Linked DNA regions of Homo sapiens. The protein of the gene in region 2 purifies or fractionates together with the protein of the main gene of each other region. This does not show direct contact. Each region holds a gene or a part of one and is shown on either strand. Other genes may lie near its edges.

The links.
Region 1: the proteins of IPO5 (region 2) and NOC3L purify together in Homo sapiens (affinity purification with mass spectrometry; 2 studies listed by BioGRID and IntAct, with this or other methods). This does not show direct contact.
Region 3: the proteins of IPO5 (region 2) and DCAF13 purify together in Homo sapiens (affinity purification with mass spectrometry; 2 studies listed by BioGRID and IntAct, with this or other methods). This does not show direct contact.
Region 4: the proteins of IPO5 (region 2) and NOP14 purify together in Homo sapiens (affinity purification with mass spectrometry; 2 studies listed by BioGRID and IntAct, with this or other methods). This does not show direct contact.

Annotation. Positions count from the first base shown.
Region 1 is NC_000010.11:94,345,930-94,352,954, reverse strand, and holds part of NOC3L (nucleolar complex protein 3 homolog), read left to right. Parts: coding exon 1-59; intron 60-551; coding exon 552-645; intron 646-2,666; coding exon 2,667-2,842; intron 2,843-3,576; coding exon 3,577-3,705; intron 3,706-6,398; coding exon 6,399-6,530; intron 6,531-7,025. UniProt on the Homo sapiens protein: May be required for adipogenesis.
Region 2 is NC_000013.11:97,956,675-97,963,699, reverse strand, and holds part of IPO5 (importin-5), read right to left. Parts: intron 3,354-7,025; exon of another isoform or gene 3,297-3,353; intron 541-3,296; exon of another isoform or gene 418-540; intron 1-417. UniProt on the Homo sapiens protein: Functions in nuclear protein import as nuclear transport receptor. Serves as receptor for nuclear localization signals (NLS) in cargo substrates.
Region 3 is NC_000008.11:103,410,800-103,418,396, reverse strand, and holds the start of DCAF13 (DDB1- and CUL4-associated factor 13), read right to left. Parts: upstream 3,012-7,597; 5' UTR 2,951-3,011; coding exon 2,881-2,950; intron 1-2,880. Other genes in the region: SLC25A32 (solute carrier family 25 member 32), read left to right, coding at 3,460-3,613. UniProt on the Homo sapiens protein: Part of the small subunit (SSU) processome, first precursor of the small eukaryotic ribosomal subunit.
Region 4 is NC_000004.12:2,939,383-2,946,407, forward strand, and holds part of NOP14 (nucleolar protein 14), read right to left. Parts: intron 5,848-7,025; coding exon 5,746-5,847; intron 4,845-5,745; coding exon 4,691-4,844; intron 2,970-4,690; coding exon 2,810-2,969; intron 2,348-2,809; coding exon 2,200-2,347; intron 264-2,199; coding exon 145-263; intron 1-144. UniProt on the Homo sapiens protein: Involved in nucleolar processing of pre-18S ribosomal RNA. Has a role in the nuclear export of 40S pre-ribosomal subunit to the cytoplasm.

The DNA.
Region 1 (7,025 bases), on a different chromosome or scaffold from region 2:
AAGATATTACTCCTTCATATAAAATCCGGCCCCTCACAGAAGCAGAAAAATCTACTAAGGTAATGCTAGATTGCTAGATATAATTACTATCTAAAATAACTAAACATTTTGGAGAGATAGACTTTTTTTTTTTGAGGCAGAGTTTTACTCTGTCGCCCAGACTAGAGTGCAGTGGCGTGATCTTGGCTCACTGCAACCTCTGCCTTCCGGGTTCAAGTGATTCTCCTGCCTCAGCCCCCTCAGTAGCTGGGATCACAGGCATGCGCCACCAGGCCCAGCTAATTTTTGTGCTTTTAGTAGAGACGGGGTTTCCCCACGTTGGCCAGGCTGGTCTCAAACACCTGACCTCAGGTGATCTACCCGCCTCTGCCTCACAAAGTGCTGAGATTACAGGCATGAGCCACCACGCCTGGCCTAAACGACTGCCGCGTTTTTTGTTTTTTGTTTTTTTAAATAGTACTGGGTGTATACTAGACACACATATTTTATACTAATTTTGGGCTTTTAATGTTCTGATTTTAAAAAATGATTGACCTTTTTGGTCTTTTCAGACCCGAAAAGAAACCCAGAAGTTAAGAGAATTTGAAGAAGGCCTGGTTAGCCAATACAAGTTTTATTTGGAAAATCTGGAACAAATGGTTAAAGGTATATTAAACATATCTTCAAAGTTTGTAACATACTTAGCCTTGATCATGAAGGTGAATTCTGTACAGTGTTCTGTGTTGTGTAGTGAGAGGCAGGTATGGTCAGGAACAGAATCTAGAGTCAGACTTCCAGGGGTCAAATCCTGGCTCCACCACTTACTACCTATGTGATGGGAAAATTACATAGTCTTTCTGTGTCTCAGTTTTCCTGTCTAAAAAATGGAAATAATTATAGTACTTACCTTCCAGGATTATTGTAAGAAGTAACTGAGTTTGTAGATATGAGGTGCTTTAAACAGTGCCTAGCATGTACTATACACTATATTTTATCAATTATTAGTATTATTGCTGCAGTTTTTAGTAAGTAGTTGTATTTTTGTTGACTACAATGCATTTAACAAAATACATTGTTATGAACAGTTGGGATTTATTCTGCTGTTTTTTATTTGGAGGCATGGTAGTCAGGGAAGAAGGATAACTAGAGGCCAGGCGTGGTGGGTCACACCTGTAACCCCAGTGCTTTTGGAGGCCGAGGCAAGAGGATTGCTCGAAGCTAGGAGTTTGAGACCAGCCTGGGGAATGTAGTGAGACTCCTGTCTCTAAAAAAAAAAAAAAAAAATTAGGCATGATGGCCCATGCCTATAGAGCCCCAGCTACTGGAGATCTGAGCTGAGAGGATCACTTGAGTCCAGAAGTTTGAGCCTGCGGTGAGCTATGATTATGCCACTGCACTGTAGTCTGGGCGATAGAGTGAGACCCTGTCTCAAAAGAAATGAATAAATAAATAGAAGGATAACTAGAAATGGATATTTGCATGTCTTGAAAATGGATTTATGAGTCAATTATTTGGGATGATAAACTCTTAAACTCTTCAGAAAAGGAAGGACATAGAAAAAATAGGGGTAGGAATAGGGAAGACAGTTGTTGCCTAGGCCAGGTGTTTTCATTTGGCCTAATTGGCTCATTTACCCAGCTTATTTACTAAGATCACCCATTGCTGTCAGCTGGAACAGGACCACTGAATCCTGTTGGCCTAATAAGGGCATAAAGGTAGTGGAGTATAGTGGGGTGGGGGTGGGTAGTATGGATATTGCTTCTATGTTCTGGTGTTCCAGCTGGCACCCTATTAGTGTTTGTTCTTCCAGTGAGAGGGCCTGGGAGTTTTTCTTTTGTTTTTGAATTTCTGAACTGTTTGGAAAGCTCCTGGGATCTTTGTGCAACCATCTCTGTCTGATAGAACTATAACATGAGCCACATATGTCATTTAAAAAAAATGCAGACACACTAAAAAGCAATGAAATTAATTTTAATAGTATATTATATATATTCAGATTATCATTTCAACATGTAATAAATTTTAAAAATTAATGTCTTACATTCTCAGTTTTTTTTAGTACTAAGTTCAAATCTGGTTTGTATTTTATACTTAGAGTGTATTTTATACTTAGAGTATATCTTAATTTGTATTAGCTGCATTTCAAATGCTCAATTGACTCCTATATGTGGCAGTTAGTAGCCTCCATATTGGACCTTTCCTGAGCAGATCGAACCATTATGAAGTCTTTTTTTCTTCTTCTTTTTTTTTTTTTTTTTTGAGACGATGTCTTGCTCTGTCGCCAGGCTGGAATGCAGTGGTGCAGTCACAGCTCACTGCAACCTCTGCCTCCCAGGTTCAAGTGATTCCCCTGCCTCAGCCTCCTGAATAGCTGGGACTACAGGCGTGTGCCACCCACCATGCCTGGCTAATTTTTTTTTTTTTATGTTAGTAGAGATGGGGTTTCACCATGTTGGTCAAGATGGTCTCAATCTCCTGAGCTCGTGATCTGCCCACCTTGGCCTCCCAAAGTGCTGGGATTACAGGTGTGAGCCACTGTGCCCAGCATATGAAGTCTTTTTTTAAGGGGTGTGGGAATGTGTGTGTGTGTGTTTATGTGTGTTAAAATGTACATTGATTGTAAAAGAAAGCCAATTAGTTTAACTTTTGACCAATGAGTAAAGTAACTACAGTTATCTTTTGATTAGATTGGAAGCAGAGGAAGCTGAAGAAAAGTAATGTAGTTTCCTTAAAGGCATACAAAGGACTGGCAGAAGTCGCTGTGAAGAGCTTGTGTGAGCTGTTGGTGGCACTACCTCATTTTAACTTTCACAACAACATCATCGTATTGATTGTCCCTCTCATGAATGACATGTCAAAATTGGTGAGTTGCTGTAAATGGTTATTGCTGTCCTCCTTAGAAAATTATACACCATGTGGGCCAGGCACGGTGGCTCACACCTGTAATCCCAGCACTTTGGGAGGCCGAGGCAGGCAGATCACGAGGTCAGGAGATCGAGACCACCCCAGCTAACATGGTGAAACCCCATCTCTACTAAAAATACAAAAAATTAGCAGGGCGTGGTGGCAGGCGCCTGTAGTCCCAGCTACTTGGGAGGCTGAGGCAGGAGAATGGCGTGAACTCAGGAGGCAGAGCTTGCAGTGAGCTGAGATTGCGCCATTGCACTCCAGCCTGGGCAATAGAGCGAGACTCTGTCTCAAAAAAAATAAATAAATGAATAAAAAAAGAAAATTATACACCATGTGATTTTTTTCCCCCTACAAAATTCTTCTGAAGTTATTTATTGGTAAAATAATGTCAATTTATTAAACACTGTCTATCTGAAGAAAATTATCTGAACATAAGTTTGGTGTAGTGGTTCACAACAGGAAGCAAATTTGTCCCCCAGGGAACATTAGGCAATGTCGGCATACATTTTTGATTGTGATGACTGTGGTGGCGATAGAGTCTTAACTACTGGCATCTAGTGGAGAAAGTCCATGGAGGCTTTTAAACATCCTAGGACAGTCCCCCTACAACAAAGAATTCTGTTACCCAAAACGTCAGTAGTGCTAAGGTTGAGAAACACTGGTTAAGTATGACATTTTATTTTTCAGATATCTGAAATGTGTTGTGAAGCTGTGAAGAAACTCTTTAAGCAAGATAAATTAGGCCAAGCTTCTCTTGGTGTAATTAAAGTGATTTCTGGTTTTGTGAAGGGCAGAAATTACGAAGTTAGGCCAGAGGTGAGCCTTTTTTTTTTTACTTTGCATTTTGTTTTTAAATTACAAAGTTGATTTTCAGTTGTTATGAGGAATTTATTCCTTATAAGTGTATGAAGTAAAAAGTATTCAAGCTCCTTAAGTGTTTAACATGTCAACTCCTGAAATGTTTGATACTATTAACAGTTCGGTATTTATCCTTCTAGATGTTTTTCTTTGCAGATATAGTCATATATACTTGCTTATATTTTAAAATAAAAAATGGGCTTATACTTTGAAAACTGTTCTGGAACAGTTTTCATTTTCTATATTGTGAACTTACATATAGGGTTATCCCATTCTTTCTAATGCCTACCAGAGTATTCCATTGTGTGCCCTAATTGTTGAACAGCTGAGTTTTTTCTAGATTTTTGCTGCCACAGTCAGTGTTGAGAACATTTTGGCCATATTATTTTTTCATATTGTGTGAATATTCTGTGAATTAAATTTATAAAATGTAGATGCTGGATCCAACAGTAATCACATTTACAAACTCAAATTGTTGTTCAAAAACATTTAATCACTGTGTTCCTGCTAGGAATATGAGTGTCAGTTCCCTCCTACCTGCTCAGAATGTTACTATTTAATCTTTGTTAGTCAGGTAGGTGAAAAGTTTATATATATATAAACTTTTTTTACCTGCTTATTATTTGTCAGTTTTTCTCTTAAAGTAATTGTCTTAATGACTTGTGATGAGTTTTTAGTACATATTCATTTTAATAAATAACTGCTATGTGCCAGGCACTTTTTTTAGGTCCTGGGAATAAAATAGTAACAAAAGAAACGAAACTATCTGTTTGTGGAGCTTGCATTACATAAAGAATATTAACTCTTTGTTACATAGGTTGCAGATTGTTCTCTTTTTTACTTTGCCTTTTAATTCTGTGTTCAGCCTTATATATGAAGCTATATTTTTTGTTATGCACATAGTCTCCTCAATCCCAATTTACGGAGTCTCTCCGAGATTTTTAATTTTAATTTTTATATTTAAATATTTAAACCATTTGACATCTTTGTATGTGTGGTATGAGTACAGATTTAATATCTGTGTTTAATATATGTAATGAATATATATTTTATATAGTTTAATATATATTGAATATTTATATTATGTATATATTTGATATAATCTGACAGCCAGTTATTTCATCACCATTTTTTTTCTGCTGATATAAAATGCTGCTTAATTATTGTGTTATATCTATAGTATATTTGGGTATGTGGTACAATAATAATCAGAAAGGGTATAATTGATAAAAGACATGACTATTCTTTTTTCTCCACAATATTCTTATTTATTTCAGTATATTACTCCAGGCAGTTTAGAATCCATTTTTCACTTCCTTCCCTCAAAATAGTCCACACAGAGAATCTGATTAGAATCGATTCAATGTATTGATTAGTTTGGATGAATTAAAATATTTACAGAATTGATTTTTTTCTATTCAAGAATATCATATCTTGCCATTTATTTAAGACTTCTTTTATGTTCTTAAGTAAAATTTTATAGTTTTCTTCACTGAGGTCTTAGATATTTTAATTTGTCTTTAGTAATACAGTTTTGGGTGTTAAGCTGTTCTACCATTTTATTTCTGGATTTCACAGTTTTCCTTTGGCATCAGATTCCTTTTTATTTTCTTAAATCTGATTTCAGTTGAATTGCTAAAATTATAAACATTAAATGAAAGTAACAGAGCATATTTAGCATCTTTACTTAGAATTGTAGAGCAATCAGATAAGGCTTGAACATGAAACTCAGCCATAGGAAAACCCTTTAACTTTCGTGATGCTAGAGTAAAAACTACATCATTTGATTTGGAGTTATTTTTCGTTGGTAGGTGATATTTTGAGCACATACAGTACCTACAAAATATTCAGAGTTGGTCTTTCTGATACCTAGAATGACTTCAGGTTCACTCTTTATGCCTTTAGTTATTCCTTGTTTCATTCTGTGCTTTTAGCCGTGTAATCCCAAATACTCAGCTTTCTTCCAAATGTGCATATTGGAACATCAAAATAATACAAACCTGTAGTTCTCAAGGTTTTTTCCAGGAATGCTGCTGTGCCTGCGGGAGGTCGGTAGGGTGATTTCATCCAGAGAAAGTGTAGCATTTTAAACCCCTTTTGTTCTTAGTGTTTGAGTATGCGAAGTTTGCTGTATCACACAAAACACCAGTTTCCAAATTAGTTTCTGAATTTTTGAATGGCATAAAGCAATAATTTTTATTTTTGTCCCCAGACCAGCATCAGCTGGGAATTAGAATGCAAATTCTGGGGCTCAACTCAGACCTACTAAATCAGAAACTCTGGGGATAGGGCCCAGCAATTTGTGTATCTTCTCCCATACTGGTCCAAACCTTTTCCTGGCCTGTTTTCTCTTTGTCATCCTGTTGGCATGTGTTCTCTCTTCCTTATACTCATTAAACTGCAAAGAAAGTTTTGTATATTTAGTTAGTATTTGCTAGCGTCCGTTTTGTATGTTTGCTCCCGTCCTTCCATAGACACAAGTTATTAATATAGCATACAGATAAAAGAAGTTGGTGTAAAATGTTATAAAAGATGTTTGAAGGTTTTTTCATGAACGAGGGAAATAACACTGTTAAATGCTTTTCTATGTAAAGTTTTTGAGGGCAATATAAATATTAAGCTGTATATTTGTGTTTTTTTTCCAATATTAGATGTTAAAAACATTTTTATGCCTAAGAATCAAGGAAGTAGAAGTGAAAAAAGATACAGAAGACATTAATAAACCAAAAAAATTTATGACTTTCAAAGAAAAGAGAAAATCTCTATCAAGAATGCAGAGAAAGGTTTGACTTATTTCCCCTTTTGTTTCATTTAAATTTTCTGTTTATTTGATCTTAGATTAAACTTATAGGCACATGTAAAAATCATAGTTAAATCATAAACATAAAAGTTTTGAAATACATCATTTAGAGAATTTTATCTTTTCCTGTTACTGCAAAGAAATGTTTTCTTAAATCAGTTTTAACTGATAATGATTGGCAAGGAGAGCAATAGATGAAAAGATATTTTTGCCATGCTGGCTTTTATCCTTTGGCTTTTTAGATCAATTTAGAGTTATGATACACAGATTCCTTCCTTAACAGAAAAGATGCATTCACGTGAAGTTGGCAGCAAAGTGAGTTTCTGTTAATTGAATCTTGTTTCTTTGTTGGTTTGTATTTTAAACTTGGGTTGAAATTTCAGCCGCTTGTTTATTTACTGAAACTTTGGAAACTTTATTTATTTATTTATTTATTTTTTGATAAACGGGGCTAATAATAGTACCTACCTTGCAGGGT
Region 2 (7,025 bases):
GAATTCAAGGCTTACTATAAAGCTGTAATAATGGCCGGGTGCAGTGGCTCACACCTATAATCCTAGCATTTTGGGAGGCTGAGGCGGGCAGATCATGAGGTCAGAAGATCGAGACCATCCTGGCCAACATGGTGAAACCCCATCTGTACTAAAATACAAAAAATTAGCCGGGCGTGAGGGTGCATGCCTGTAGTCCCAGCTACTTGGGAGGCTGAGGCAAGGGAATTGCTTGAACCCAGGAGGCGGAGATTGCAGTGAGCTGAGATTCCACCACTGCACTCTAGCCTGGTGACAGAGCTAGACTCCGTCTCAAAAAAAAAAAAAAAAGCTATAATAATTAAGACACAAGTGTTACCGGCATAAGGACAGACATATAGATCAATGGAATTGAATAGTGACTCCAGAAATAAACCTTACATGTGTTGTCAGACTGATTTTTGACAAGGATACTGTGATGGTTAGTTTTATGTTTCACTTGGCTAGGCTGTTGGAGCCCCGTTGTTTGGTCAAACAGCAGTCTAGATGTTGCTGGGAAAGTATCTGTGGATACAATTTAACATTTATAATCAGTTGACTTTAACTAAAGCAAATTACCCTCCACAAGGTGGGTGGGCTTCATCTAATCAGTTGAAGGCCTTAATAGCAAAGATGGAGGTTTCTGGGGGAAGAAACAATTCTGCTACAAGACCACAGCACAGAAACCTTGCCCGAATCTCCACCTGCTGGTTTGCCCTTCAGATTTCAAACTCAAGACTACAACATCAACTCAAACCTGAATTTCCAGCCTGCTAGCCTGCCCTGCAGGATTTGAACTTTCCATCTCTCATAATTATGTAGCAGATTCCTTAAAATAAATCTATCTATCTACCTTTTTTTTTTTTTTGAGACAGTTTCACTCTGTCACCCAGGCTGGAGTGCAGTGGCACAATCTTGGCTCACTGCAACCTCTGCCTCCCAGGCTCAAGTGATTCTTGTGCCTCAGCCTCCTGAGCAGCTGGGACTACGGATGTGCCTCACCATACCCAGCTAATTTTTTGTATTTTTAATAGAGACAGGGGTTTCACCATGTTGGCCAGGCTGGTCTCGAACTCCTGACCTCAAGTGATCTGCCTGCCTGGGCCCCCCAAAGTGCTGGGATTACAGGTGTGAGCCACTGTGCCCATCCATCTATTTCTTATTGGTTCATTTTCTCTTGAGGACCCTGGCTAATATAGGAGCCATGACTGTTCACTGTGGAAAGATTGTTGCCGGTACAACTTGATATCCACATGCGTTAGAATGAAGCTGGACCCATACTTCACGTCATAAAAACTTCAAAGTGGATCATAGACTAAATGTAAGAGCTAAAACTATAAAATTCTTACAAGAAAATATAGGACTAAATCTTCATCGCTTTGGGGTAGGCAATCATTTTTTAGCTATGACATCAAAATCACAAAAGGCAGAAGAGAAAAATGGATACATTGAACTTCACAAAATTAAAACCTTTGTGCTTTTAAGGACACCATCAAGAAAGAGAAAAGACAACTCATAGAATGGGAGAAAATATATGCAAATAATGTATATTTTTTGAGACAAAGTCTCACTCTGTCACCCAGGCTGGAATGCATTGGCATGATCTCAGCTCACTGCAGGCTCTGCCTCCCAGGTTCAAGTGATTCTCCTGCCTCAGCCTCCAGATTAGCTGGGATTACAGGTGTGCGCCCCCACGCCCAGCTAATTTTTGTATTTTTAGTAGAGATGGGGTTTTGCCGTGTTGGCCAGGCTGGTCTTGAACTCCTGACCTCAAGTGATCCACTCACTTTGGTCTCCCAAAGTGCTGGGATTACAGGTGTGAGCCACTGCGCCTGGCCACAAATCATATGTCTTATAAGGGACTTATATCCAGAATATTTAAAAAGCCCTACTCTCAATTAAAAAAAGACAACCCAATTAAAAAAATGGGTAAAACATTTGAATAGACATTTCTCCAGAGAAAATATACAAATGGCCAATAAGCACATGAAAAGATGTGCAACATCATTCATCATTAGAGAAATGCAAATCAAAACCACAATGTAAGTTACCACTTCATACCCAATAAAATGGCTTTAATAAAAAAGGCAACAGCAAGTGTTGACAAGAATGTGGAGAAATTCAAACGCTCATACTTTGCTAATAGGAACATAAAATGTTACAGCCAATTTGGAAAACAGTCTGAATAAGCTGGGTGTGGTGACGCATGCCTGTAATTCCAGTTACTCGAGAGGCTGAGGCATGAGAATCACTTGAACCTGGGAGGCAGAGGTTGCGTTGAGCCGAGATCGTGCCATTGCACTCCAGCCTGAGTTACCATTTGACTCAGTAATTTCACTCCTAGGTATATGTGCAAGAGAAAAGACAACATATGTTGACACAAAAACTTGTACATGAATGTTCATGGCAACATTATTCACCACAGCCAAAAAGTGGAAACAATTCAACTGTCCATCCACTGGTGAATGGATAAACAAAATGTCTTCTAACTATACAAGGAAATATTACTTCGCAATAAAAGAATAAAGTAATGATACATGTAACAACATGAGTGAACCTTAAACTCATTAGACTGCCTGAAGGAAATCAGACAAAAAGACCACACATTTTTTTGGTCCCACTTATGGGAAATGTCCAGAATCAGCACATCCATAGACAGTAGATTGGTGCTTGCCATGTGCCTGGGCATGGGGTGGGTAGGGGAATCAGTGAGTGCTAGCAGGTATGGAGTTTTCTTTTAGGGTGAGGAAAGGGTGATAGTGATGAATGTGCAGCCCACTGAATATACTAAACACTCCATTGTACACTTTAGAAGGTTGAACTTTAGGCTGGGTGAGGTGGCTCATGCCTGTAATCCCAGCACTTTGGGAGGCTCAGGCGAGTGGATCACCTGAGGTCAGGAGTTCGAGACCAGCTTGACCAACATGGTGAAACGCTGTCTCTACTGAAAGTACAAAAGTTAGCTGGGCGTAGTGGTGCGCGACTGTAATCCCAGCTACTCAAGAGGCTGAGGCAGGAGAATTGCTTGAACCCAGGAGGTGGAGGTTGCAGTGAGCCGAGATCATGCCATTGCACTCCAGCCTGGGTGACAAGGGTGAAACTCCATCTCAAAAAAAAAAAAAACCAAATAAATAAAATAAAAAGTAAAATTTGGACTTTATGGTGTATGAATGTCTCAATAAAGCTATTATATTAAAAATACATTTCCTTAGAGAGCTGAAGGATATTGATTTAGACCTCAATTAGTGATTTTTTCCCCCTATCATTCACAGTATTTTTACCTTAGTTCTGAATCCTTGAGTGATAACCATTCATAACCTTCAAACTTCGGAGAATTCCTAAACCAATATTTGTGGAGAGGGAGAATGGGGAGATTCAGATATGATTTGGTCTGTAGACTTTCCTTCCCATCTTTTTGCTACTTACAGCAAGTATCTTACAATTTGGACACATGACATACACATTTCACCTCCTGCATTGTGAGGACATACATAATGGAGTCTGAATTGTGACATCGATCTGCATCTCATAGTTGGAGCTATTGGCAGCATGGATTTTTAGTCATCCACAGTTAATGAGGAACAAATGAAAGGGACCTTATAATGGTTCATAGGCTTCAATTCCATGCATCCTATGTGTAGTACTGCTTGATGCCACATTTAACTGCAGTAGTATTTGTTTAATGAACATTTTCTTCATTCATTTGTTTAGAAAAATATTAGGCACCCCTCTGTGGGAGGTGCTGCTAGGCTGTGGGGATTCCACGGTGAGCATGCGGACAGGGTTCCCACCTTCAGGGAGCTTAGCTCTTTTGAAAGAATTCAGATAATAAACAAGTAAACTGATAAGATACTTGCATACAGTTATAGGTGAAAAAAGAAGATAATGGGATCACGAATGACTGGATTTGGAGTGGGGTCATACCCTAGGGACACAGTCTTTCTTTTCTTTGAGACAGAGTCCCAGTCCGTCACCCCGGCTGGAGTGCAGTGGCGCTATCTAGGCTCACTGCAACCTACGCCTCCCGGGTTCAAGCAATTCTCCTGGCTCAGCCTCCTAAGTAGCTGGGACTATAGGCGCCCGCCACCACACCCGGTTAATTTTTGTTTTTTGTATTTTAGTAGAGACGGGGTTTCACCATGTTGGCCAGGCTGGTCTTGAACTTCTGACTTTGTGACCCACCCGCCTCGGCCTCCCAAAGTGCTGGGATTATAGGCGTGAGCCACCGTGCCCTGCCGGGACAGTCTTTTGAGAGGAGGTGACAATGAAAGATGAGGCAAATAAAGAAATGGAGGAGGCTCTCTCAAGCAGAGGTGACAATACGAAGGACAGAGGCAAAAACAAGTTGGGGTATTCCAGAAAGGAAAGAAGGGGATAGCTAAAGCTGAGAGGGTTGAGAGGCCAGCAGAGGCCAGATCACCCAGGGCACCCTGATAGTTCAGCAGCATGTTCTGCTACTAGGGCATTGTGATGGTTCTGTAGTGTGACTTGTTCTCTCTCTTTTTTTTTTTTTGAGACACAGTCTTGCTGTGTCACCCAGGCTGGAGTGCAGTGGCGTGATCTTAGTTCACTTCAACCTCTGCCTCCTAGGTTCAAGCAATTCTCTTGCCTCAGCCTCCCGAGTAGCTGGGATTACAGGTGCCCGCCACCACGTCTGGCTAATTTTTGTATTTTTAGTAGAGACGAGGTTTCACCATGTTGGCCAGGCTGGTCTTGAACTCCTGACCTCAGGTGATCTACCTGCCTCAGCCTCCCAAAGTGCTGGGGTTACAGGTGTGAGCCACCGTGTCCTGCCTCTTGTAGTGTGACTTGTCCTAGGGGAAAGGGGAATCTAGTGGAGGGTTAAGAAAGAGATCTGACCTGAGAAGCTTTCAACTTTCAAAGATCATCTTGGCTGCAGTGTGGGGTGGGGTGGGATGGGGCTTGGACTGAGGTGGTAGCAATCAACAGTGTTCACTGTTGTGTGGTCGGTTTTAGATGGTTTTCTTTTCTCTTTCTTTCTTTTTTTTTTTTGAGATAGTTTTCTTTTGGAAATGAGCTGGACAGAGGGTGCAGAGGCCGATCCAAGGTTTGTGAGGCCTAAATCATACAGTTTGAGGGCCTTCCATAAGAAAAATAAAAACTAAACACAAAATGAGATAGAGGACCCTGCAATGGGGTAACACAAAATGAGATAGAGGGTCCTGAGCAAAGGAGAGTCCCTGACACTTAAGCTTCTGGAATTTCTTGATGAGTCCTCTCCCGATGGTGGGGGTGAGGTCGGGAGAGATCAAGAATGCCCAGGTTTTGTGACTGAGCAACTGATGATGCTATTAAGATGAGAAGGAGGTGTTTGGGGTAAGGTCTGGAGAGAAGAGCTGGGTTTCCTTCGTGGCACTTTTGTGGGACACAGGAAACAGCCACGTGGCTGAGGATAGAGGGACAATGGAGCCCAGGAAGAGGGCAGGGCTGGAAATGGCAAGCCATCACTTTCATGGCATTTAAAGTTGTGGAAGTGGATGACATCAGGTTGGGAAGAGAGAAGAGAGCCAAGCAATCAGCTGCAAGACAACTCCACCTGAGGCCAGGCCCTGGAGGTTTCTAGTTTATATATAGTCCAAATATAATAGTATATTTAACATTAGTCACTTTAAGTTGTAATTCTCTTTTTCTTTCTGATTGCAAGGGTTTCTTTCTTTACTTTTTTTTCTGAGACAGAGTCTCATTCTGTCTCACTCTGTCACCCAGGCTGGAGTGCAGTGGTGCGATCTCGGCTCACTGCAATCTCCACCTCATGGGTTCAAGCGATTCTGCTGTCTCGGCCTCTAGAGTAGCTGGGATTACAGAAGACAGGGTTTCTTTAACATTTAAGGAATCCACTGATCTACTTCTGAAATCTTCAGAGATAAAAAAGAGAAGGAATCCACTAATGCATGTAAGGATAGTGGGCTGAACAAGTAGGCCCTAATGATCAGAACAAGTCAATTAAAAAAATTATTTGATCAAAGAATTGTTTATTTTTATTGTTTTTATTTTTATTTTTTCTTATACTTCAGGAGTAGTAGGATTTACTTTGTGCCAAGGAAATAACTAGTTTTCTCTAAATTGTCTTCAAGCATTTAGGCCTCCTACCAACTAATATAATTCTCTACCTCTCACTTAGAAACATTGTTTAACAATATGGAATGATCATTTAAAGAACTTAGATCAGGCTGAGTGCGGTGGCTCATGCCTGTAATCCCAGGACTTTGGGAGGTAGGTGGATCACCTGAGGTCGGAGTTCGAGACCAGCCTGGCCAACATGGTGAAACCTTGTCTCTACAAAAAATACAAAAAAAAAATTAGCCAGGTATGGTGGCGCAGGCCTGTAGTCCCAGCTACTCAGGAGGCTGAGGTGGGAGAATCGCTTGAACCTGGGAGGTGGAGGCTGCAGTGAGCTGAGATCACGCCACTGCACTCCAGCCTGGGCAACAAAATGAGACTCAGTCTCAAAAAATAGAAAAAAAAAAAGATGTTAGATCAAACTAATATTAAGAGGTCAAAAGACCATCTTCCTCCCATCTTAATCTAAGGATTTTTCTAGTTTTGTTTATACACTTAAGTTTTCATTTGAGTATTCAGAGAGATAATAAACCCTACCCTTTTAAAGAATGTGGGAGGGAGTGGGAAAAGTAGGAATGCGTTTTAAGGTCTATCTGCCATGTAAAATCAGCGATATTGGACCCATGTGATAAGAATGCTTGTTTTACATGGCTTCAGCTATCCATAGACCAAGCATTTTCTCTTGAAACATAGCTACATTTAGAAAATCTTAATACAGCTTAAAATAGGAATTTTGGTATTTGGTCCCGGACACTACCACCAGAAAGGGATCCCATTATGTTATGATGCTATTATTCAAGCTGGTTGGACTCAGTTTGCAGAGACTCCTATTTTACAAATCACTTGGCTTGTGTGAATTGACTATTTAGTGGCTGTGAGATTGAGGATAAGGGCTAAATCTTTTCTAACAAGAGGACTATTTAAAAACC
Region 3 (7,597 bases), on a different chromosome or scaffold from region 2:
AGGCATGCACCACCATGCCCCATTAATCTTTAAATTTTTTGTAGAGACGGGGGTCTCCTTATGATGCCCAGGCTACTCTCGAACTCCTGGGCTCAAGAGATCCTCCCACCTTTGCCGCCCAAAGTGTTGGGTTTATGAATGTGAGCCACTGCATTCCCAGGCAGTTTGGGTCTTCATTATCTTATACTTGGGCTACTTTAATATCATCCCTACTTGATTTGGCGGCAATTTACACTATTATCAGATGTCTTTTTTTTTCTTTTTTTTTTGAGACGGAGTCTTGCTCTGTTGCCCAGGCTGGAGTGCAGTGGCGCAATCTCGGCTCACTGCAAGCTCCACCTCCCGGGTTCACACCATTCTCCTGCCTCAGCCTCCCGAGTAGCTGGGACTACAGGCACCCGCCACCATGCCCGGCTAATTTATTTATTTTTTTGTATTTTTAGTAGAGATGGGGTTTCACCATGTTAGCCAGGATAGTCTCGATCTCCTGACCTCGTGATCTTCCCGCCTCGGCCTCCCAAAGTGCTGGGATTACAGGCGTGAGCCACTGCGCCCAGCCTATCAGATGTCATCTTAAAACAGCTTTTTACATGTCACTCCCATGCTTAAAACTTCCAAAGGCTCCCTATATAGTAGTCTTCAAACTTTCTGTGTGCCCCATTAATAACAGAGTTTTTGAGCAGATCCCTTCTCAACATATGTGTATGTTAATGAGAGCATGTAATTAAAGATGTTCTTTTTTTTTTTTTTTTTTTGAGACGGAGTCTCCCTCTGTCACCCAGGCTGGAGTGCAGTGACGCAATCTCGGCTCACTGCAAGCTCTGCCTCCTGGGTTCACACCATTCTCCCGCCTCAGCCTCCTGAGTAGCTGTGACTACAGGCACCCAGCACCACGCTGGGCTAATTTTTTTGTATTTTTAGTAGAGACGGGATTTCACTGTGTTAGCCAGGATGGTCTCAATCTCCTGACCTCGTGATCCGCCCGTCTCGGCCTCCCAAAGTGCTGGGATTACAGGCATAAGCCACCACGCCCAGCCAAAGATCTTTTTTTTTAAGAAAAATCTTGATTCAACACTGTGATAGATTTAAAGGTTCTAATTTCAGCTTAATTCAATGTTTGGTTTTAATGGCTACTATTATAAAAAAAATTCAAGCAGTACTCACTTTCGCACTGTACTGTATTAACGGGACGGGTTGCATACTGGAATCAATTCCCCACTTTGCAAAGTTTCGTGGTTAACAGATGTGATTTCAATCACTGTAAACCTCTTAAAGAGTGGGACTGGTTCAGTTAATATGGTACTGTGCAAAGTGCAGAATGCCTGTACTTCACAAAGAAAGCATACCCAAAATGATAATGTCCATAATTGGCCACGTTTATTTAATATATTTAATTTTCAGTCTCATCCATCAGTTTTGCAAAGATTATTTTTGAAGTCTAGAAAATTTCTATCTACTCTGATGTCAGCAGCTGTTCCTACAACTAAAATTAGCATTTTAATAATTTCAACAGAAGTTTAAAAACCCCAACAAGATAGATCATTTTGTTTCTAAATCTCTTCATGTAGGCAAAAATGAATCTTTATAGATGGAGAAACTGACATTTATTAAAGCAACTATGTGCTAGGTGCTGTCTTAACAGTGCATACACGAACATGATTCTTCCCCTTTTTGGAGGCTAAGTCTGATGGGAAAGACTATTAACCAAAATAATAATCATGAGACAATGTGATAAACACTGTGAAGAAGTGATAGAATCACAGAAGACGGGTGCTGAAGGGGGCGGGGCTCATGCAGGAGGTAAGCAGGAACAGATTACTGTTCGGTGAAAGTCTTCCAGAGAAAGCGGCTAAACTGGGTAAGGGTGTGTGCCACAGGAGGCCTTAAAAAAGATGACTGAAACGCACTGAGATTTGCAAGGGTGAATACTAAACCACTTGTGGGAAACGTAGTGACTGACTAAAGTGGCAAGGAAGGTGGGACCAGAGATTCAAGGACTGGGAACGATGCCAAATCCAAGTGACAAATCTAATTTATATTTTAGAAACATTACTGCCTTGTGACAAACTGTAAACATCTTTTGAGCAGAGACTTATTAGCAATGCTCACACACATGTTGATAATATCTCCTACTCAACCAAAATAGTGAAATACTGTTTTCGCCTCATCTCATCTCGCTTACTCCTCATTCAAACTAATGACACAGCCCTTCTTTCTATGCCTTAGGTTCATTCCTGCCTGAAGACCTTTGCTCCTGTTATTCTCTTTATTTAGAACAATCTGCTTACGCATGGTTGGTCCCTTGTCATTTAGGTATCACAAAGTACAATTTATAAGTGGTTAGCATGTTAACGGGGGAACAGACCAGGAAGGATAAATTAATTTCATTTAACCATTCTTTCATCAAACTTCTTAAGGGATGGTAAGAGAAAACTGATGCTTTTAAATTCATCTTTGTCTCTTCCAACATCCACAACTAATGTGAAGTAGTAAAGCGGCAAGAAGAGCAGTAGGAAGGTTTTAAAAGCCTGTTTAACTCTCAGCCCTTCAACCCACGAGTTTGGCTCATTCAAGTCCACTTTTCAGTAATAGGAACCTGAAGACAATCCCAGAGCAGCAGCTGGAATTTTTCTCCACTATAGACAACTGTTTCCCACTCACCACTAGAGGAAATTCTTAGAAAAAGGACTTGAACAGACTTTACTTGCTATCCATCCAGTTCCGCAGCGACTCCGTAAGCACAAAGTTTGCCTTAGCGAAAGGTAACTGAGAAAGAACCAGACCAGAGTGCCAGCCTCCCCCGGCTTTACTCCGCGAAAGCCGAGGCTAGACCCAACGACTTGCGGAAACCGTCCCTTTCTCCCTACCAACTTATCTTACCTCTCTGTAAGTCCAACTTGGTTTCGCGGACATAATTGTCCGGATTCCGGCTCAGCATCTTCACCTTCATCTCGGTTGCTCTTCCGGCCGGACTCCACGAGGTGTCCGCTAGGAGTTCCGCCCACCGCCACCTCCTCCCACAGGCGACTTCCGCTTTTCCCAGACTACTTCCAGTCACGTGACTCGCGGAGCGGCGGCCTGCTGGCTCAACTGGATCCTGCGCCGCTCCGTAGTTTTGCCGGCAAACGTTAGCAAGGGGCGGTTCTTTAGCTGTGCAGTCGCTTCCGCGTCCGTGGGCTGGAGCATTTGTGGGCGAGGCAGGGCGGAGACTCGGGAGAGGCTGGGACCTCCCCTCCATCGCGCTTTCCGCCGGCGTGACGTAGTGTCTGTGCCCCGTTCTTGCCCCCTCAGTACTAGAGTCTCCGGCTTCGCTCACGCGCCTTGGGCATAAGAGTCCTCTCGTTGGTCCCGGAGGTGGGGTTGCGCTCACAAGGGGCGACCGTCGCCACGGTGGCGGCCACTGCATCGCGTCCCACCTCCGCGGCCCTGGGCGCCGTGGTGTCGACGGGCCCCGAGCCTATGACGGGCCAGGGCCAGTCGGCGTCCGGGTCGTCGGCGTGGAGCACGGTATTCCGCCACGTCCGGTATGAGAACCTGATAGCGGGCGTGAGCGGCGGCGTCTTATCCAACCTTGCGCTGCATCCGCTCGACCTCGTGAAGATCCGCTTCGCCGGTAAGAGCCCGCCCAGACACCGGGCTGCATCCTCTCACTGTCAGCCCGAACTGGATCTCCTCCGTCTTTTCCGTTCTAGGGGGAGGAGGAGCGTTGAAGGGAGCGTTGCTGTCCGCGTTGGCTAACCTGAACTAGATTTGAGGAAATGGTGCTTGGTGGAGGGGTCGGCCTGCGATCTTCCCCGCTCCTCAAGACTAAGAGAGGGGGCATGTATGTAGAGAAGTCTGAGAAAAAACATCCTCATTGGCAGAGAAGATGGGATTCAAAGCCTGATTTGTAAAATAAAGAAGGGATTGTCACATTTTAAGGTTTAGTCCTCACACGTGCAAATCATTCACTCTTGGAGGAACTTTGAAATCTTAGCATACCCACGTGGTTTGGCAGCTCGACTAGTATTGGGATAGGGCGTAATCTTCAGCGAATGGTTGGGAGTAGATTTAGAATAGAATTCTCTTGAATGTTTGTTTTTTGGCATTTGTAGAATGGTACAAGTTTCTGTGAAAAAATAGCTAGAATCGAAATACTATTTTAAGTGTATTAGATGAATTGAGTATGTTGAAATTAACAAAGCATTTTAGAAGTTAAACTCAACACTAAAGTCTGGAAAGAGTTTCAAAGATGATCTTTGATAACTGAAATTGCAGAAAATAGTTTCCAAATAAAGTTATTACAAGTTAAGTTCAGCCTTGAGAATTAAATCTACAGAAGTTGTTTATTTTAGCATTAGGCAATTCAGTTCACTTGATTTATATTCTCTTAATATTTGTAGACTGCTGTATGGGCTACAGAAGTATCTAATAAAGTTCTTGCCTTCAGGGAACTTAGAATTTAATTGTAGGCGTTAGACTTAGTCATATAAAAGGTAATTCTAGACAACATAAAATCAAGAAATACAAAAACAAAATATAAATACAGGTAAACCGTTAAGAAAATTCTACATTACTGATGGCCATGTGTATCTTTAAGGTTCAGTGGAAGATTGGGGCTTGGGGTTTCCCATAGAAGGGCTAATATTTTGACAGCTGGAGAGGAAGCAAGAACCCGTTCTATGAAGGAAAATCATCGAAAATTATGGAGTATTATCTCTAGAAAAAACACCACAAAGACATATAATGTCATGAAGTTTTATGATGCATGCACAAATAATTATGTTATTGACAAGTAATCTTTATCGAGTATTTACTAGGAGCAAGGCAGTGAACTATGCTTTAGATGCATTATCTCATTTATTATCCTGTAAATCTATTCACAGGAACAATCCTGTGAGTTTATGATATCTGCTATACAGATGAGGATAACAGAAGTTGACTAACTTGCCCAAGTCACAAGTTTGTAAAGATGGATCTGGGATTTAAACCCAGGTAATCTAACTCTGGAACCCTCTGGCACTTAACCCCTCACCGTATTACCTCTATAAGTACCTGTTATACAATGGTTTGAACATTGGAAGAATTTTAGACTTGCCTGCAGGTGCAGGCCTGTATGACTTGCTGTCTGTCTTCAGTAGCATTTTATCTAGGAGCAGAAGAGGTGATAGTCGAGGTGATCATTGAAGAATAGTGTGGTTGGCCTGATGAGTTTAGACAGTGCTTTGAAGCATATCATTCCTGAGGAAAGGGAATTCTTGGTACCTGAGAAGATTAATAGTCTTGATGAATTGGGAAGAGTATTAGGAGACTAGTGGGGCTGAGGTGACAGATAAAAGGATTGAGTTTGGATTGGAGGCCTAAATTAAAGATCCAGGAGTGGAAGCAGGACTTTGTAATAATAAAGCTCACAGTGTAGCTGTGAAATGGTGATAGGAGGAAAACTTAAGAAGATGAATAACGAAATAAAAATTTATTGATTATCAACATCAGTGCTGAGTAACATACTATAATTTTTATGCTTCCATGTAATTAAACTCATTTAATAAAGTTAAAATCTAATGATGACAGGGTGTGGGGGTTAATTCTGAATGCATGTGCTATTAAACCAAACCTGGAATTTTTCTGTGAGTTCAAGTATAAATTGGAACTCAGAGGTGTCCAGAGTGGTAGAAAGATTAGAAATTACTTCATATGAAAAATGACTGGAGGAACTAGTTTAGCTCGGGAGAGAAAAAAACCTCAAGATATTTAGAGAACTTACATGTGGGAAAGGGGGCTGCCTTATTGTGGGTTGATCCTAAGGTCAGACACAGGTTGAGTGGAAATTACAAGGAAGCAGATTTTGGTTTGGCAATGTGGCAGTGCTCAGAAATGAAATTGATGATGATCAGAAGTGGTTCAGATAGTAGTTGGATGACAGAAGTTAGAAGATATTCTTGTATTAGGTGGAAAGATTGGATTGGATGATTATTCAGGCCCCTTCTAACTTTACTCTGTAATTTTAAACCCTCAAGAATGATGAGAGAGCCCCAACAAAGAATGAGATGTAAAAATAGTAATTTTCTCAAATACCCAAAAGCCTAATCTGCAAGTTAAAGTTGTGTGTGAGCTTTTGTGAAGAATGTAGAGACTATGACTACATCCAAAATATTAAGGAACCAAAACGTAAAATTCAGTAACAGTAGTGCCGAGTAAAGTTGTGTAAGTATGTGGTATCGCAAGACCCAGTAGCATAAATAAACTAGTACTTACAGAGTGCTTGCAATATGTCAGGCATAATTCTAAGAGCTTTATATGTACTAACTGATTTAATCCTTTATAATTTTTAGAGTTAGGTTCTATTATTTTTTCCTATCTTACAGAAAAACTCAGGCACAGAGCAATCAAGTGACTTACTCAGGGTTGCAAAGTAATTGCTAGAACTGGGATTCAAGCTCAGAAAGTCTGTTTCCGTAACATATGCTGTTAGTTTGAAACCATGAGTGGGTAGTTTGGTATAGCTAAAGGGTAAATTAAAATGCTAGAGATGGAAATAAAGAATGATTCCAGAAAGTTAAGCTGCCAGATTGACATTATCTTTTATGCCATGTGAAAATGGAAACTGGCAGTAGAACCACAACCCTTAGTAGGGCAGGATGTTAGGAATAAGAGACCAGGACTAGAAGCACAGGGATGGCAGTTGAAGCCACTTAATGGTTGAGACACCACCCCTATTTGGTGGAAATTGTGCCTATAAATCAGCATTTAAGGATGGGCAGAGAAAAGGGGGCCAAGGAAATTTATTGGCAAAGAAGCAAGAGGACATTCAAGAAAATGTGGTGTTAAATGAGCCAGAAGAGAGGGATTTACACAATATCAGGTGTATTAAGGGGTTCCTAAGAAAGAGAGAACTCCAAAGTGCCTTTGAAGGTTCTTAATTAGAGCGCTTGCAGTAATTGGTAAAGCTCAAACCAGATTGCAGCAGGGGTGAGAGAGTCCCTGCTGAGATTGTCTCGGGGGCCAGGGAGGGGCTGGTTTTCTCATTGCAGACACTTACCTGATAAGGGGGCACTGAGATCAAAGAGGAAATACTTAGGAGAGACTTAAGTCTATTTAAATACTAATGGGAAAGAACTGAAATCAAGGAAGAAATTGGGAAATGGAGGCAGGAGGATAAAGAGTAACGTATCTAACTAAGGTGGGTTATCTGAAGAAGCAGGATCTAGAACAAGCATTTTTGACCAGAACGCTTAGTAGGAAATAAATTTTACCTTTGCTATCCACACACAAACATTACTGAAACACAAGTTTCATGAAACATTACTTATCCTTAACTACTTGTAATGTCATTTATATTTGTTTTCAATTCCAGTCTGGTTTTAAAGAAAAGATACTGGCAATCTGTTCAATTGGTTTCTTGATTCATCTGCAATTTTAAAAACACCAATATAGAGCACAGGTAGGGGGGAGATTAATTTTATTAAGAGAGACAAACTTGTCACAGAGGAAAGGAGGGGTAAAACTAACATCCAGCAAATGAAACAGGTTGTGTAAGGGTGATAGTGCTAGATGATAATTTTTTTAAAGTCATTATATTGTCTTTCTTTGAAAATGAATTTAAAATTAGTGTCCTGTC
Region 4 (7,025 bases), on a different chromosome or scaffold from region 2:
TCCCCACCTCTCAGCCAGAGCCTGCTTGGGAGTGTGGCTTCACTCCGTAGTCATCTGCTCAACTGCAGAACTGGCAGACGCCCCCCGTCAGCTCCCACTGAGCCCACAGCCCTGGCCTCCCAGGGAGATGCTGCCAGCACCCACACTTTGACCAGCCGGGGTGTGAAAAGCTTCAGTGGGACAGGCTTGCTCTTCTCACAGGTCAGCGGCCGGCAGAGCTGCTTCTGGCTTTCCATTTCGGTCAGTGTGCTCTGACACAGCTCCTGAAAAACACGAAATCCCCGACTCTGCGATGACTCACCTGCTGCGTGCCCTGAGCTCCACGCACGGGTTCTGTGGTGTCAAGGCAGCGTGAGGACAGTGCTGCGAGCTCCCTGCAGCAGGATGGTGCCCTTGCTGTGCGCCTACCGGTGGGCGGGGGGGTAAGCCAAGGCTGTGGCTGCTCAAGTCCTGGCACAGCCGGAACGAAGTAAAGCCACTGTCTTCTTGAAGAGGGAGGGCCGTGGGCTGGCCCCTGAGAGCACTCTCTGAAAGGAGGGGACTTGGGGAGTTGGAGGTCACCATAGCCTGTGCTCCTCACAGCCAGAAACGTCAACAGAACCCCTCTTTCCCAGACAAACTTGGCACGAAAGGCCGTGAGCCACTTGCTTCGTGAGAAGGCTCACAGGAGAACCCCTTTCTGCCGCGGGGGGCCGTGTGCATGCTAGAGCCCAGTGTGCAAACTGACGCTGGGTGCTAGGCGGGGCAGGGTTTCCACCAGTCTTGGCAGTTTGACCTTATTTTCAAGCCAACAGAACCAGATGGTTAAGACCCATTTTCACCAAGACCTTGGCTTCCAGAAGAGTTGGCTGGTGGCTTCTGAGGAATCTCCCGAAAGGTAGTTCACTGAGGTTGGTCCTACCCGCTTTCTCCTGCACAGGTGTGTCCTGGAACCCTGGCTGCACCCACAGATACAGCCACTCCTGGGCCCATGTGGATGTAACCTTCGAGTGCCGGAATGCCTCGTCTCCATGGAGACCAAACTCAAGGGCCTGACTGGCCCAGTCTACCGAGACCATGAGACCTGCTGTGCCCCTCGGCCAGGCCAACCCAAATTCTTTTAAATAAAAGGCACAAGCCACAGCCACACCAGCAGGAAGTGGATACAGGATAAGGGGCAGGGCTCACATCTCATCCTCATCAGCCTTTGACCAGGCGACGGAGTCTGTGATAGCTAGCTTATCTGCTCTATGCTCCAGGGACCTGGCCGGAACGAGCCGAGTTGCTGTCCTCATGGAACTCTCATCCTAGTGGGGCAGAGACAAGGACGGTGTAACGTGCCCGGGGGTCAGCACCACAGACAAAACGCAGGGAGCACGGCACAGTGTGGGCCAGGGAAGGCCTGGCTTCCCAAGGGTGTGGGCGCGAGCAGCATGGCTGTGGGGAGTTCTAGGTGCAGAGAACTACTCCAGAGACGAAGCCAGGCCTGCGAGGAGGCCGGAGCGCATGAGGGGAAGGCACGAGGCAAGGCTGCCAGGGCTGTGCTGGTGGTGCGGGACGGTCCTGTGGGGGTAGCTGCGGAGATGGCACTGATGCCTTCGGCTCCAGCAGCATCCTGGGCTGGTGCGGGCCAATAAGGGGCAGGGTTGGGGCAGGATGAAAGGCACAAGCCACAGCCATGTCAAGCAGGAAGTGGATGCAGGGTACAGCCTGTCAGGGTCAGGGTGAAAGGCAGGGAGGCGGGTAGGCCATAGGTGAATTTGGAGCAGCCTGTAGAGGACAGGATGTGCCATCAAAGACTTGTTCTTGGGTCCAGCTGAGACTGTCCCTTGGGGCTTCCTGTCACCTTGTGCAGGATAGTGAGACCATCCTTGGAAAACCCATCGGGACTGCAGAGCGCGGCTCAGAGCTGACTGTCCAGGCCTGGCAGGGGCTGACCCCTGGGCGCTGGTGCACCCTCCGTGCGGCCTCTTGGAGGAAGCACACAAGGCGACAGTTCCCAGCTGCCGCCTGAGATGCAGCATCTGCTTTACTCCAGCCCAGCACTGCTCACCGTCACTGCCCACTCTTATGATTTTACTTCCCTTCATATTTGTGATTTTGCAAAGATGGTGTTGACTTACAGCTGCAGCATCAAATGACTGACTGCCACCAGCTTGGCCCCAGCTCAGGGACATGTCTGAGCCCAGGCAGAGCACCCTAGTGGCCGGGAAGCCTCACCTGGAGCTCCTGCGGGTGGCTGCAGTCCGCCAGGTGATCCGTGAGGAGGGCTTGGAGAGGCCCCATGATGGCGTGGAAGGATGGCAGGGACCCGTACATGAGCACGCAGCGCTTCAGCAGGGCCAGGCCCACAGCCAGGCAGGACAGTCTGTGAGGGCAGGAGGCAAGAGGAGGTCCAACTTGTTCTGTTTGTCACTGACAAAACCAATAACGTGGCAAAAATGAACTTCCCCACTTCCACTAGGCTGAAAACTCCAGTGTGGCCACCTTGGCCGGCCAGGGTTGGGCCCATGCAACCACGGGCAAGGCAGGCTCAGGGTCAGGCCTAACGCAGGAGGGGAGGCTGTGGGAACCGCAGCGCCAGCTGGGATGGGGCGGCTCCATTTTTGGTTCCAAATTATGATTTGTGAAATCAAGCAAATGTATTTTGAAAATGAAAAGAAAAAGGGACAGCAAGCCAACATGCCTCAGAAAGGCTTTCGGCCTCCATCAAACCAAACGGCCGGGCGGCAAGTTCACTAAGAACAGCACATCAGAAAGCACGAGTGGCTTCTCCTGCCTCTGGGGACGCTGTAGGGCACAGGCCCCAAAGCGGGGTCCCCTCACATACCGGATGTGATTGGCCTCTGTCGAAGTTGGGGCCCTCAGTCTACTCGCCCAGCGGAGGGAGAGGCTGCTCTGCTGCCACGTGGCCACATCCTCTCTAGCAGACACCACGAGCAGTTCCGAGTTCTTCCCAAGCGCTCTGAAAGGGTGCACCAGAGTGGAACCTGAATTCCAAGTGCGACAGGACAGAGATGGCCTGAACATTACTGGGCTCCCAGCAGGCTCTGCGGCACCGAGCCTGTGGAAGTTCACCCTCTAACAGACGCACACCGATTTTTATGTTTCTGGGTTGTGCCAGACACTGAGGGTTTCAGCGTGGGCAGGGACACCTCAGGGGAGGGGAAAAGCTTTGGCAGGGGGCGCGGTGAGAGCCAAGTGCCTGATCCTGCCTGAGAGGCCTGCTGGCCACAGACTTCCTGGGGCCTACTAGGCACACATGGGGCTGATGAGGCGCTCAGGCCACATCCGGGAACAGACTGAAGTCCCTGCCCCTGTCGGGGAGACAGGCAGTGCACAGCACCCAGAGGAGCAAATGGACCAGACAGAACACGAGAAAGGAAAGTGGAGGGGCAGGAGGGAGACAGGAGAGTCAGTCGGGGGTGACGGTGGAGGGCGGGAGAGGCCTGAGGGGCAGACGTCAGCAAAGGCCTGTAGGACGCAGGAGTCAATTCACTCGCCACGGAGAAGGGCAATCCAGGCCGAGGGTGTGGCTACACGGGGAGGGGTGGAGAGTGGGTACAGTGGGGCAGAGGTGCCGGGCCAAGCGAGAGGGGAAGGCGTGGGTCAGGCCCCGCCCCACACTTCCCCAAAGCCGAGATGCCCACCCCTTCCTTGACTCCACCTGTGCCCAGCCTGTTCCGTCACAGCCCTTCACACGTGGGACTGCAGCTATCTACAGGTGGCTCTCCCGGAGGCAGGGAGCATGTGGGCGGCCGCGCCCCTCTGGCGCCCAGCACCGAGCCTGACAGACAGGAGCCTTGGGAGGCAGGTGGTGGCAGAATGGGAGCACTGAACCGGAAGAGTGGGCCAGACCCCTCTTGGAAGGGACTCTGCTGGTGGTGTGAATGATGCCACAGCACCTGCTCCTCAGGTCAGTCCCCTGGACATGCAGGCGCTTAGCACTGCACGGTGAGCTGGAAATAGAGGACAGGGGTCTGAGCCTTGAGGTCCAACCTCTGGTCAGGCTGGGAGAGGCGTCCACAGACATGGAAGAGCTCAGGAAGAGGCTGTGCAGCTCCTCACCCCCCAGAGGGAAGCAGCAAGTGCTGAGGAAGCATCCAGGAGCAGGGCTGGCATCAGGGGAAGGGGGAGGAGCACAGGGGCTGGGGTGAGGGCCCAGGAGGGCAGCCAGTGTGCAGACTGCTCCTCATCCCAACACTGCTCTTGCCGCCCTCGCTCCTGAATTCAGAGCGTTAAGAGAAGCGACACAGCAGCGCGGCCTGTGTGAGCTGCACGAGAACTTTCACACTGCCTTGTCGTCACGTGAGAAAAAGTAAAAAGTTAAGATTGATTTTAACAATAGACCTTATCTAACCCCAAATACCAAAATATTATGATTTTAACACATAATACAAAAAATTAAGATATTTTAAGTATTTCTGACACTAAGTCTTCGCCACTTGGGCATATGTCACAGGTAGGGTACGTCTCAGTTCAGACTCTGGCCCCTGGCAACCACGCTGGACAGCACAGGTCACCGGTAGCACTGCTTTTCCCCATGTGGCGCGTGCACACGCTCACACAGAGGGACAGACAGTGCGGCGGGTGGCAGGTTGTGTGTTTCCTCTACTTTCGCATATTCTAAACTTTCTACAATGAGTATGAACTACTTAAAAAAATTCTAAAGTATAACATATTTGTAGGAACCTCCCTCAAATCAACTCACCTTGGCTTGCTTTGTTTGGAGTTGCTATGTAAAGAATCCCAAGAAGAAAATTAATAAGCTCAGGTATAAACCTCTGGGACAAAGCCACATACTCCAGGAACAGGCAGCACACGAACAGGCCCTTCACCACGTCCTGGAGGGACAGGATGGGGCACTGGAAAGGAACATATGGGGGGTTACTGTCCTGGGACGATGTCATGCCATGCTAGGCCGACCACCGGGCTTCCCTGATGAACCACGCACCCCACTGAGCTTCACAAGTACAGAGGGAACCCCCGCACCTTATAGCAGTGTCGAGAGCATCAAATGAGATGAAAACAAGATAAAGAGCTTTAGTGATTTTTTTTTCCCGAGACGGAGTTTCACTCTTACCACCCAGGCTGGAGTGCAATGGCACAATCTCGGCTCACTGCAACCTCCACCTCCCGGGTTCAAGTGATTTTCCTGCCTCAGTCTCCCGAGTAGCTGGGATTACAGGCATGTGGCACCACACCCAGCTAATTTTTGTATTTTTAGTAGAGACGGGGTTTCGCCATGTTGGCCACACTGGTCTTGAACTCCCGACCTCAGGTGATCCGCCCGCCTCAGCCTCCGAAAGTGCTGGGATTACAGGCGTGAGCCACCGCGCCTGGCCAGAGCTATACTGATTATAAAGTTCCTTCCACCCATACAGAGCGTACGATTACTGCACTAAGCATGTACCAATCACATGCCTAATAAAGAAAAAGGAACAGCTTGAACTTTTTAAGCCAAAAAGGGAACAAAAGCCCTTATCATCACACTGGATAACTTCACCACTAACTTGAAAGGTTGTTTTCTGGGGTAGCACCATCTGTAACCTTGAGGTGCCAAACCAGGCCCTCCCACTCCCACCCACATCTGGGGCTGCTCGAGCCGGGGCTCTTTTAGATGGGCCCTCTTTGGCCTAACCGCAGTGCTCGGTCTCTGCAGCCCTTAAACAGCCACACTCATGTTCCACAAGGCCCCGAGGGGCTGTGGCTCCGGCCACCCGTGGTGCAGCAGGCCGACCCCTGCCGCATGTGGAGAGAACGCACCTTGGTGAGCAGCTGACTGAGGCACACGAGGGCAGGGGTCACCACTGGGTGCCAGAAGTCGGAAGTTGGAAATAGCAGCCCAGTGATTTTCAAATAAATGAGCTGGAAAGAAAGTGTTACCACAGGTTAAAGAAGGTAAATGAAGTCCATCCATATGCCCTCCCCGCAAACACTCCGGAGCCAAGAACAGGATCTGGCGAGGAGAGGGTGCATCTCCTTGGCCCAGAGCTCTGGCCTCAGTGTCACAGAACAGGCGTCCAACCACCGTGGGTCAACCAGCTAAACGTGCAGTGAGGACACTGAGGCCCATGAAGACTTCAAAGCAGTCAACAATGGTTATAGACACGGGCTCAGATCATGTTTTGGGGAGTTGATTAAAAATCACTAACCTAAGTCCTACATTTTTAAGCTTCTGCTAACTATTGTGAATCCATTTCAACACAAACACCAGGCAACAGAATAAAGAGCGTATCTCAGCAAGTATTTCCTTAAAGTTACTAAAGCTGAAAATACAGCATGAGGCTGTTATAAAATTGTTAAAAATCTCAGCGTACAAATGTCTCCCAACCTTTGAATAACATAGAAACCGAGACCAATTTAAACCAGCCCACAGGCTTGGGCCCTTAAGGACAATACCGTGGTTCTATTTGCCTTCCAATGTTTTTGTCACTGGACCAAATACAGCACCATTCACGTGGAATCAAACCAGAATCTCCCTGCACGACCCACACGTTAGTCCATGGCTAGTGGAGGAGTGCCCTCCCCTCCCAGGCTCGCTGCCGTGCACTCTCACTCCAGATCACCCTCACTGCCGTGCACTCTCACTCCAGATCACCCTCACTGCCGTGCACTCTCACTCCAGATCACCCTCACTGCCGTGCACTCTCACTCCAGATCACCCTCACTGCCGTGCACTCTCACTCCAGATCACCCTCACTGCCGTGCACTCTCACTCCAGATCACCCTCACTGCCGTGCACTCTCACTCCAGATCACCCTCGCTGCCGTGCACTCACTCCAGATCACCCTCACTGCCGTGCACTCTCCAGATCACCCTCACTGCCGTGCACTCTCCAGATCACCCTCACTGCCGTGCACTCTCACTCCAGATCACCCTCACTGCCGTGCACTCTCACTCCAGATCACCCTCGCTGCCGTGCAGCTCACTCCACATCACCCTGGAAGCACAGGGTACAGCCAAGAGCATCGTACCCGTCGTCCACCTTCTGTGATGCCAAACAGAACTTCTGTGGCAGGGGCAGTGCCTAGACTGAACTCTGC